Regions from separate parts of the Homo sapiens genome. Here region 1 is linked to region 2. The links come from fine-mapping of genetic effects on gene expression. A gene starts in region 2. The other region holds a variant in brackets. All regions are shown on one strand. Distances are from middle to middle.

Region 1 (5,385 bases), 120 kb before region 2:
TTCTTCCTCCTCCTCATAAGCATGGTACCTATCTCCCAAAGTGCCAGAGTGACAGTGAGGACTTGTCAAGAGCCATTCATCTCTAGAAGCACTGTGAACTTTAGCCAAGCATATGGTTCAGTTATTCAGGATCTTTAAAGACATTATTGAACCAGCGGGAGTGGGCTTGTTATGTCTTAACTTTAGGGGGGAAAAGGGGGTGGGGTAGAGATTTAGGCTTTTGCATTTATAACATATACTTTTTAGGGAAAAGTGTTAATTAAGCATAATTTTATTTTCAGCATTTATAAGATAAACATGATGTAGCATCAACTGTTCATTGTCCATAGCTTGCTAAATTTTGAGTTGCCAAGACTCTTGTGAAAATTCTGTTTCCCATTGCAGTGGCATAGTGTAAGTTATTTTTTAAGGAAATAGGTTAATTTGTTTATGTGATGAACACATGTGCAGGTGAGACTTTGCCCAGATTGGAGACTTTGACTTTGAGTCACTCCACTTTATTTATATAGTATCCCAGGAAGGTTAGCCAAATATGTGTAGAAGCTGCCAGTATTAATGATTGTTAGAAGACCAGCTTAGTGCATACAGTGTTTACAGCGCACCTGGCATGCTTCTATGCTTGTATATACCTTAGTTCATTTAATCTTCCTCATACAATTGAATTATGCGATATCATTATTCTCAATTTACACTTGAGAAAACTAAGGCATACAGAGATGATTTTTCAACAGTGCTTCAGTAAGTTAACAGTTAAGTTGAAAAGACTTTTTTTTAATTAAAAGGGAATATTGAATAAGCTAAGAAAAAATGAAGGTAATTAATAACTTGAAGATTAGATGTGCAGTATTAAATAAAACACTGGAGAAAAGGATCGAACTTTTCAATGATGTTTCTAAAAATCCATGCCTAGCCTTGCCACTAAAGGAATTCCAAGATGTTTATCCCTGTGAACAGAAAAACAATCAGCACAACTCTGTGGAAAGGCAATAGGCAAAAGAGAAATCACTTTCTAACCAGCAAAAGCTTTTACAGAAGTCTTCAGATTCTGTATTTTTAAAAGTAATGAGAATTAACTTTTCAGAAGCCTGGAAATAGAACTCAACACACCTGTTTGAGAAGATAAGCGACGAGAGGCACCTTAGCTTAGCCTGCGAGGTTAAAAGTTAAGACTCCAGTCTGTATTCTCAAACCAGCTTAGTCTCTTAAAGTTGTTAAGAAGCAAATGAGATTAAAGCATATAAACAAATGCCTGGCGAGTAGAAAGAGCTCAGTGCTTGCTTGTGTAGCTATTAGTTTCTACATGCAAAGGGCTGGGGAAACAGGATTATGTGAATGAGAAAGGGTCCAGGAAACACCCTTCTGTGGTCCTCTAGGTTTTTTCTGAGAGCCTGGCAGATAGTAGGCATTTATTATAGTGACAAATCATCTTTAAGAAATCAACTTGGTAAACATTGGGGGGAAGTGCAGCCTTAAGTTGTGCATGTGCTAGTATGTTTTGAAGTTTCTGGTTTTTCTTTTCTAGGTTCTTATAGAGACTGCTAAGAAGCTAGGACTCCGGTGCCACTCAAAGGGGACAATGGTCACAATCGAGGGACCTCGTTTTAGCTCCCGGGCAGAAAGCTTCATGTTCCGCACCTGGGGGGCGGATGTTATCAACATGACCACAGTTCCAGAGGTGGTTCTTGCTAAGGAGGCTGGAATTTGTTACGCAAGTATCGCCATGGCGACAGATTATGACTGCTGGAAGGAGCACGAGGAAGCAGTAGGTGGAATTCTTTTCTAAGCACATATAGCATGGGTTTCTGGGTGCCAATAGGGTGTCTTAACTGTTTGTTTCTATTACGTTAGTTTCAGAAAGTGCCTTTCTACAAGGTTTTGAAGTTGTTAATATTTTCTGTAGTTCCATTGGAAGGTAAGAACAAAGATCAAAGGAAAGAAAGAGACACTTTTACCCAAGGATCAGTAGTGAAAATAGTACATTGTAGGCAGGTAGATGTGTTGAGAATCATACTAAGACTTGGGCCTTATTTTCAGGATAAAGGTGTATTTTGATTGCCAATTTCTGCTGCTATGCTACTGTTTTTTGTTTTCAAGAAGGAAAAAAATCTATTAACCCTTTCCTCATGAGAGGGCTGTATGTTCACATCCATCTATTTAACGTACCGTGGCTGGATACTCTGTTCAGCATAGAAATGTGACAACAAACAGAGAAGTCCTTAAGGAGCCGACATTCTGTCGGATGGAGATAGAAGTTAAGCAAACCAATATAAGAAAGCTAACGGTTATAAAGAAATAGAATGGTGAGGTACAAGGGTACACTAGGTCAACTGAATAGAGTTGACCAGACCAAATATTTGAAGTATGAGAAGCCTTCCTGTTTTAAGTGTGATGGGCAAGAAGGGCATGATTGAGTAGAGTGGAAAGGAGGGAGACTGGGGAGAAGGGAGAGAGAGGAGGGATGCAATACAGTAGGGCCAGGCCATACAGACCATGGTAAGGGTTTCAGATGGAAGGACAGTGAGGGGTTCAGGCAGGGAAGGCAGCAGGATCCAGCTGGAATTTGA[G/A]GACACTGGAACAATGAGGTCAGCTTCCAAAACAAAACAAAACAAAACTTTAAACATCTGTGTAAGTACAGGGTGGAATATAATGAATTCCAGGTACCCATCACTTAGGTTCCACAATTAGCCATGGCCAATCTTGTGTGATAGGTATGTCCCTACCTATTTCTCCCCTGCCCTCATTGTGAAGTAAATATTTTCCTAAAAGGTCTTTTTAAAATTAAGTTATAACCATGCCATCATTGTACAAAAATAATGATATTAATTTCTTAATATAATCAAATATTCAGACTATTCCTTTTTCCTTCAGTCTCATAATTTTTAACAATTTGATCAAATCAGAATCCCTTACAATCCATATGTTGTATTTTAATGATTACCTCTTGTCTCTTTTAATCTAATTTTCACCTCTTTCTCTTTTTATTCCTTGTGTTACTTGAATAAACTAGATCGTTCGTCCTGTCATTTATCTCATTTTAAGATAAAGGGACGACAAAACTGCAGTCACTTTTGAAGTAAGGAAAACATTTAGGGGTGACTTTCTGAGCACATTTAGGGTAAGTGACATCTCCAAAGAGGCCTAATATTGTACCACCGTTTTAGAGAGTTTGTTTTACTATCTAATGTGTACAGTGTTTTGGGTCATAGATGAACACAGGTTCTTTGTTTTTCATGAATTCCTTATGATGACTCTTCAGTGTAATAAACTGTTTGCTTAGTACTAGGATGCCTTTTATGTAAGAGATTCGCAAATTATTACATTAAGTCACAACATAATATCTTATTTGGCAGCTTTGGTAACCTAAGGAACAACTCAGCCTCGTAATGTCAAGAAGCTGCTTCCAATTAATAGGAAACTCCAGCCCCTGCCACACCCTGAGAGCGGTTTGCTTCCTGCCTGTGGCTTTCTGCTCAGTCTAATAACATATGTCTCCTCCTTTGTAGAACCAGCAGTGATTTCCTTTAGTAGCCAAATGAGGTTGGGGAAATAGTCAGCTGGAGCTACTTTATTGAAAAGCAGAGAAATTAAGCTCTGTAAGTGGAAAGGCTTGAAGACAGTGTTAAATGCTACAAGGAAGGCCCACAGAAAGATGGCATTATTTCAGCCAATCGTGTGTTGCAGCCTGGCATGGCAAAAAGGATTTGGAGTTCTCTAAACCCATCTTCAGATTTGAGTTGCTCCATTTGCTTGTCACATTGGGCGAGTTATTTCACTTGTTTACTCTTCTGTAGAATGAAGCCAGGGCTCTGGGTGAGGAGTGGAGGTTGTTTAGTCATTGTTTAGTCAGTTAGACCTTGAAAGATTACTGGAAGAATTAAACCAAATGAGATATGTAAAAAAGCTAGTATAATGCTGGCTTGTAAGAGGGTGGTCATCAGATGGTGGCTCTGATGGAGTGGGGGGCCTGAGAGGTGGGTAGTATCAGGGAAAAGCATTTAAACTGCACCTTGAAGAGAGGGTTTATTTTGGGAAGGTCAGTAGGAAGGACATTTTGGGTGAAGCCCAACAGCTGGAACAAAGAGAAGGGAGGTCAGTGTCTATACAGAAATAACCAGTCACAGGAAAAATATATAAGGAAATGAGTAAATACAAGGCAAATTTCTTGGATGCTTCATGTCTGCATTCAAAGACTCAGCTTAAAACATATCATTTACATGTGCCTGGCAGATACCCAGCCTGTCACTGCTTTGTGTTCCCATAGTAGTGCAAACTCCCCTCTGCTACAGTGTTCATCATTTTTTCCTATACACATCTTGGTGTTTGTGGGTGGGATCTGGACTATGCTTAAGGAAATAGAAAGATGTAATCCTTGTGTCCCTGAATGCTGGATTTCTTCGAAGCATAGGAAGGCATGTCAAGTACTCTATCTCTGATGGTAATTTTGTGTTCACTTTCTTCAACTTTTTCTTATGAAGCTATTTTAGTCATATACAGAAGTAGCTAATAGCACGAGCTTCCATGAATTCAGCATCTAGCTTCAACCATTATATTAACTTACAACCAATATGATTATTACTCCCATCAATAATTTTATCCATAAACACTTCAGGAGGTATCTAACATGAGCACATTATCATTTTCATTCTCCAATAATAATTCTTTAATATACCCAGCCAGAATTTAAATTTCTGGTTAAATGCCTTAAATTATTCTTTTGGTTGCAAGCTTTTTATGAAGGAACCAGATCATTTGTCCTGTTGAGTTTCCCACAGTCTGAATTGCTGAAATCATCTCCTTGGAGTAGTTTAATAGGCTTCTCTGTCCTCTGTATTGTCTATAAATTGGTAGCTAGATTTAGAAATTTAATCAGATTCAGGTGTCTTAAGGTAGCATTTTATTTTTTCATCAGGAAGCACATAATGAGTGGTTTATTTGGGATTTTGTTTGGTTCGGTTTGTGATGTTAGCAGCCAATCCATTAATTCACTGGGAGCCATAAAAATGGTGGTATTTTAATTCCATAATATTTTTCTTTAGTAGCTGGAATAATTTTCTAAGGAGAAACGTACCTGTTTGGTTTTCCAGTGTAGCAACAGTTTTAACATTGTAATCCCTTCGGCTGTGGACATGAAGAGAACAGCCACATCTTTCTAGACCATATTAACCCATTATACATCTGAGATATTTTCTCCGATACCATATTGAAATCTGTATTAGTCTGTTATCACATTGCTATGGAGAAATACCTAAAACTGGGTAATTTATAAAGAAAAGAGGTTTAATTGGCTTATGGTTCTACAGGCTGTACGGGACGTGATGCTGGCATCTGCTCAGCTTCTGGGGAGGCCTCAGGAAACTTCCAATCATGTTGGAAGGCAAAAGGAGC
Region 2 (5,385 bases):
TATGATTTGAGAGTTCATTAAACAAGAGATGGTCACCTCTTTGGTTCCTAAATCATCTTGGAAACAAAGCCATTTCCAGAGAGGAATTTTAAAATACTGTCTGCAGTCATAGCAACCTTAAAATTTGAGTGCTGCATGGTGGAAGTAGACAATTTATTTTAGGATAACTGTTATTTGTTATATTAGTTTGAGGATGGTGGTGTTAAAGAGGAGTTACTTATTTTTAGGTACATTTCATACTAAACACAAATTGCATAATTTGCCTAAATCAAGGAATTATACTAAATTATATTATGGTTATTAAATCCTGTCCTGAGAAAGTGAAACTGACTCAGTTTTCAAAGAGACAAAGAGAAAGTATAAGCAAACCAAATTGCAGCTACAAAAAGAAAGACAAAATGTTGCAGTATATTTATTGTTTTGTGTATTCAATGAAGTCCTTCGTCTTGGTCATAAAACTAGCCTTAAAGGTTTTTCTTATATTTCATAGTATGAAAAATCTAAAAAGTAACCCATATGTAAATATTTAAATCATGATAGAAATCCAAAGCAAAAAGAAAATGAATCAATTGAATTAAAATGTGTAGGATGCTTAAACCCATTTGATAATATATCCATTTGATAATATACTAATATGAATTTAGTACTTTAAAATGTTATATAAATAAATGTTCCTATATTAAACACCAATGTAGTTAGGATTCTAAGCCAACATCATTTCCCCTTTTCTACATGTTCTTCTCCCGTCTCCATTAAAAATTGTCAAAACTATCCACTTTTCTTTTTCCTTTTTGTTTTTAAACAAATAAGGTCTCTTCTAAGATATTGTAGGACTACAAAGCCAAACTCCCGGGTTCAAGCTGTTGGCAAAATTTTAGAGATGCTAAGTTACCCATGTATTAATTACTTTTAAATCCTCCCCTAACTCCCTCACAAAACAGGAGTAGGGAGAGGAGAAACACCTCTGTTCAAAAATGAGGAATTGAAAACTCTTATCACAAATAAACTATATCAAGTAAGCTAAAGATAGTAAAAGAGCAAAAATGTTAGCAGATATTCCCAAAATGGTAACTACATATTACCTCTGGAATGATCACATGAATGTGGCTCATTATTTCCTAAGTTCCTACAGCAAACATATATTTATTTGCCCTACTCAGTTAAAAATAAACACAATATGTAGTTGCTTCTGAATAATTTTTCTCTCTCTCTTTCTCTCTTTCTTTCTTTCGACAAAGTCTCACTCTGTCACCCAGGCTGGAGTGAAGTGGCTCCATCTCGCTGTTCACTACAACCTCAGCCTCCCGGGTTCAAGCGATTCTCCTGCCTCAACCTCCCGAGTAGCTGGGATTACAGGCGCCTGCCACCACCCCCGGCTACTTTTTGTATTTTTAGTAGAGGCGAGGTTTCACCTGTTGGCCAGGCTGGTCTCGAACTCCCGACCTCAGGTGATTCCCCCCGCCTTGATCTCCCAAAGTGAAGGGATTACAAGGCGTGAGGCACCGCGCCCGGCCGCTTCTGAATAATTTCGATCAAAATTTATATTCGATATTTATTCCAACATACACCACAGATTTCCACTGATAATCCCTCCTAGTAAGAAAGATAAGCTCCATCCAGGTATCTGTGAATTGGAGGCTAAGTAGTCCCAGCACATCTTACATTTCTTTAAGACTCCCTTTTTATCCCAAACGTTCGTAAATTTTGTATCTGATAAAGAGCATACTTCCATCTAATACAAATATGTTCCCCCCTTCAGATCTTCTCAGCATTCGAGAGATCTGTACGCGCGTGGCTCCTCATTCCTCTTCCTTGGCTTCCCAAGCCCCCAGGGCGTCGCCAGGAGGAGGTCTGTGATTACAAACCCCTTCTGAAAACTCCCCAGGAAGCCTCCCCTTTTTCCGGAGAATCGAAGCGCTACCTGATTCCAATTCCCCTGCAAACTTCGTCCTCCAGAGTCGCCCGCCATCCCCTGCTCCCGCTGCAGACCCTCTACCCACCTGGATCGGCCTCCGACCGTAACTATTCGGTGCGTTGGGCAGCGCCCCCGCCTCCAGCAGCGCCCGCACCTCCTCTACCCGACCCCGGGCCGCGGCCGTGGCCAGCCAGTCAGCCGAAGGCTCCATGCTGCTCCCCGCCGCCGGCTCCATGCTGCTCCCCGCCGCCCGCTGCCTGCTCTCCCCCTCTCCGCAGCCGCCGAGCGCACGCGGTCCGCCCCACCCTCTGGTGACCAGCCAGCCCCTCCTCTTTCTTCCTCCGGTGCTGGCGGAAGAGCCCCCTCCGACCCTGTCCCTCAAATCCTCTGGAGGGACCGCGGTATCTTTCCAGGCAAGGGGACGCCGTGAGCGAGTGCTCGGAGGAGGTGCTATTAACTCCGAGCACTTAGCGAATGTGGCACCCCTGAAGTCGCCCCAGGTTGGGTCTCCCCCGGGGGCACCAGCCGGAAGCAGCCCTCGCCAGAGCCAGCGTTGGCAAGGAAGGAGGACTGGGCTCCTCCCCACCTGCCCCCCACACCGCCCTCCGGCCTCCCTGCTCCCAGCCGCGCTCCCCCGCCTGCCAGCAAAGGCGTGTTTGAGTGCGTTCACTCTGTTAAAAAGAAATCCGCCCCCGCCCCGTTTCCTTCCTCCGCGATACAACCTTCCTAACTGCCAAATTGAATCGGGGTGTTTGGTGTCATAGGGAAAGTATGGCTTCTTCTTTTAATCATAAGAAAAAGCAAAACTATTCTTTCCTAGTTGTGAGAGCCCCACCGAGAATCGAAATCACCTGTACGACTAGAAAGTGTCCCCCTACCCCCTCAACCCTTGATTTTCAGGAGCGCGGGGTTCACTAAGTCAGAAACCCTAGTTCAAAGGATTCCTTTTGGAGAGTCGGACTGCTCTCTCCTTCCCCTCCCCTTCCCCTCCTGCGTGTAAAACGGCTGTCTGGGGCAAGGGTTTCTCAGACGTGTACATTGCCTGGTATAAGAGCAGACTCTGAAAAGATGAGGTTTATTTAATACGGACGGGGGAGAATTCTGCCTGTAGGCAGATAGGAAAATGGGGAGGGAGTCATTGGAAGGACGGACTCCATTCTCAAAGTCATAATTCCTAGACCAGAAAAAGTGCTCAGTGTTCTAGAAGCAGAGTTGCACAGTGATCCAAAGACCAGCTTCAAATACTGTCCTGTCTCCTTCACACTTCTCACATTTCTCTTTCCTACTGAAAATACCTTGCATTTTTCGTAATTATAAAGGGGGAAGGGAATATGAGTGCCCCCTGCTTTATAGGGGTTGTTGTGAGTTTAAATGATGTATTAATACATATAAGCCTTAAGAACAGTGCCACACATCCTAAGCTAATACCTGTTAGCTCTTGAATTATCCGCTTTGAGGACTGGCTTGCAATCTTGTTTTGAGGCATAGAAAGAAAATGCTTTGGAGCAGGACGCGGTGGCTCACACCTGTAATCCCAGCACTTTGGGAAGCCGAGGCGGGCAGATCACCTGAGGTCAGGAGTTCGAGGCCAGCTTGGCCAAAATGGTGACACCCCGTCTCTACTAAAAATACAAAAATTAGCTGGCCATGGTGGCGCACGTGTGTAATTCCAGCTACTCAGGAGGCTGAGGCAGGAGAATCGCTTGAACCCGGGAGGCAGAGGTTGCAGTAAGCCGAGATCGCGCCACCACCCTCCAGCCTGGGTGACAGAATGAGACTCCGACTCAAAAAAAAAAAAAAAAATGCTTTGGATAGAATTATCACTATTACATAAAAGGAAAGTCCGGATGCGGTGGCTCACGTCTATAATCCCAGCATTCTGGGAGGCCGAGACAGGCGGATCACCTGAGGCCAGGAGTTCGAGACAAGCCTGACCAACATGGCGAAACCCTGTCTCTACTAAAAAATACAAAATTAGCGGGGCTTGGTGGCGCATGCCTGTAATCCCAGCTACTCGGAGGCTGATGTAGGAGAATCGCTTGAACCCAGGAGAAGGCGGAGGTTGCAGTGAGCCGAGATCGCGCCATTGCACTCCAGCCTGGGAGACAAGAGCGAAACTTGGTCTCAAGAAAAAAAGAAAGAAAGAAAGAAAGAAAGACCAAGAAGAACTTACTCCCTGAAAAGATTATGGGCACCCTCCACCACCCTCACTTACAAAGAAAAGTTAAACAGCACTAAAGAGTATAACAAGCGCAAGGAGGTAAAAGTTCTAATTTTTCCTGTGACTACTACTTTTTAAGCTTATCAAAAACATGTACTACGTTTTAAAAAATGGATTGCTCAGACTTTGCTGATGCCTTAAGCACATGCTTAATCTGCCTACTGGATAATCCAGCTCTGTTTAAAAGTTATATTTCAATCCCTGGTTGACTTAAACCTTGTAGACCCAGTATATCTTGTACTTTTAGTGTCTGCTTGATTTTAAAACATGTAGTTTTTAAAATGAAGCCAATGAAAACAATTTGGGATGTCAAGTATGTTATTAAAATCTACAATGCATTACTGTACCATTTATATTTTCCTCGGGGTACCTCTCAATTAGCTGTGTAGCAATGATAGGGAAAATTCAAACTATCGATAAATAAAATTATTTTAGTTTAGTTTAAGATATTTTATGATGGAGGAGGAAGAAAGTGGTTGCCAGGATGGGAGGGAGGGAACACATTTCCATCACTAATACAATGGTTCTTTCTTTTTGTTTGTTTGTTTTGTGTGTTTTTTTGAGATGGAGTTTCGCTCTGTTGCCCAGGCTGGAGTGAAATGGCACCGCACGATCTCTCTCGGTTCACTGCAACCTCCGCCTCCCGGGTTCGAGCAATTCTCCTGCCTCAGCCTCCCGAGTAGCTGGGATTACAGGCACATGCTGCCATACCCAGCTAATTTTTGTATTATTAGTAGAGACGGGGTTTCACTATGTTGGCTAGGCTTGTCTCGAACTCCTGACCTCAGGTGATCCACCCACCTTAGCCTCCCAAAGTGCTGGGATTACAGGCATGAGCCATCGTGCCCGGCCTACAGTGGTTCTTAATGGGGGTGGGAGAGTGGGAAGAGTAGGCTCCTTCAAGAGTCTGTTGAAATAAATACCTTCTTCTCAAAAAAGAAAGTAGGTAATGATTTTTTTTAAAAAAGATGTGTTCACTTGCACATGTATTTCTAGATAAAACTTTCAGTGAATTCAGGGATTTCTCTGAAACTCTACCATGGATTCCTACATCAAGAACTCTTTCAGCTCTTGTGAAAAATATATATAGCTATTGGTGAAGAAGATGGGAGATGCAACCATATAAAAACAACATTTGGATGCATTATAAACAGGTGTAAAAGTTGACTGCTTTGGAAATACCAAGAACAAGTTTTAGATATGTATATCTCATATCTTGCAGTAGAGCTCTGGAAGGATTATGGCATCC

What was found. PIP is the estimated chance that this variant, and not a neighbour inherited with it, causes the effect.
Region 1: its variant is the best candidate, but not a certain one, in a credible set for the expression of CDKN2A in lung (TOPMed, PIP 0.78).

Annotation. Positions count from the first base shown.
Region 1 is chr9:21,853,109-21,858,493 of GRCh38, forward strand. MTAP (methylthioadenosine phosphorylase) reads left to right here. Exons shown (of 8, transcript NM_002451.4): 6 at 1,523-1,762. Among named protein-coding and RNA genes, the nearest start is that of MTAP, 53 kb to the left of the region's middle. The variant G/A (reference allele first, on the strand shown) is at 2,565.
Region 2 is chr9:21,972,678-21,978,062 of GRCh38, forward strand. It overlaps CDKN2A (cyclin dependent kinase inhibitor 2A), which reads right to left and starts at 2,180. Exons shown (of 3, transcript NM_000077.5): 1 at 2,001-2,180. The coding sequence starts at 2,150. RefSeq lists silencers at 2,138-2,187, 2,408-2,507 and an enhancer at 2,688-2,737.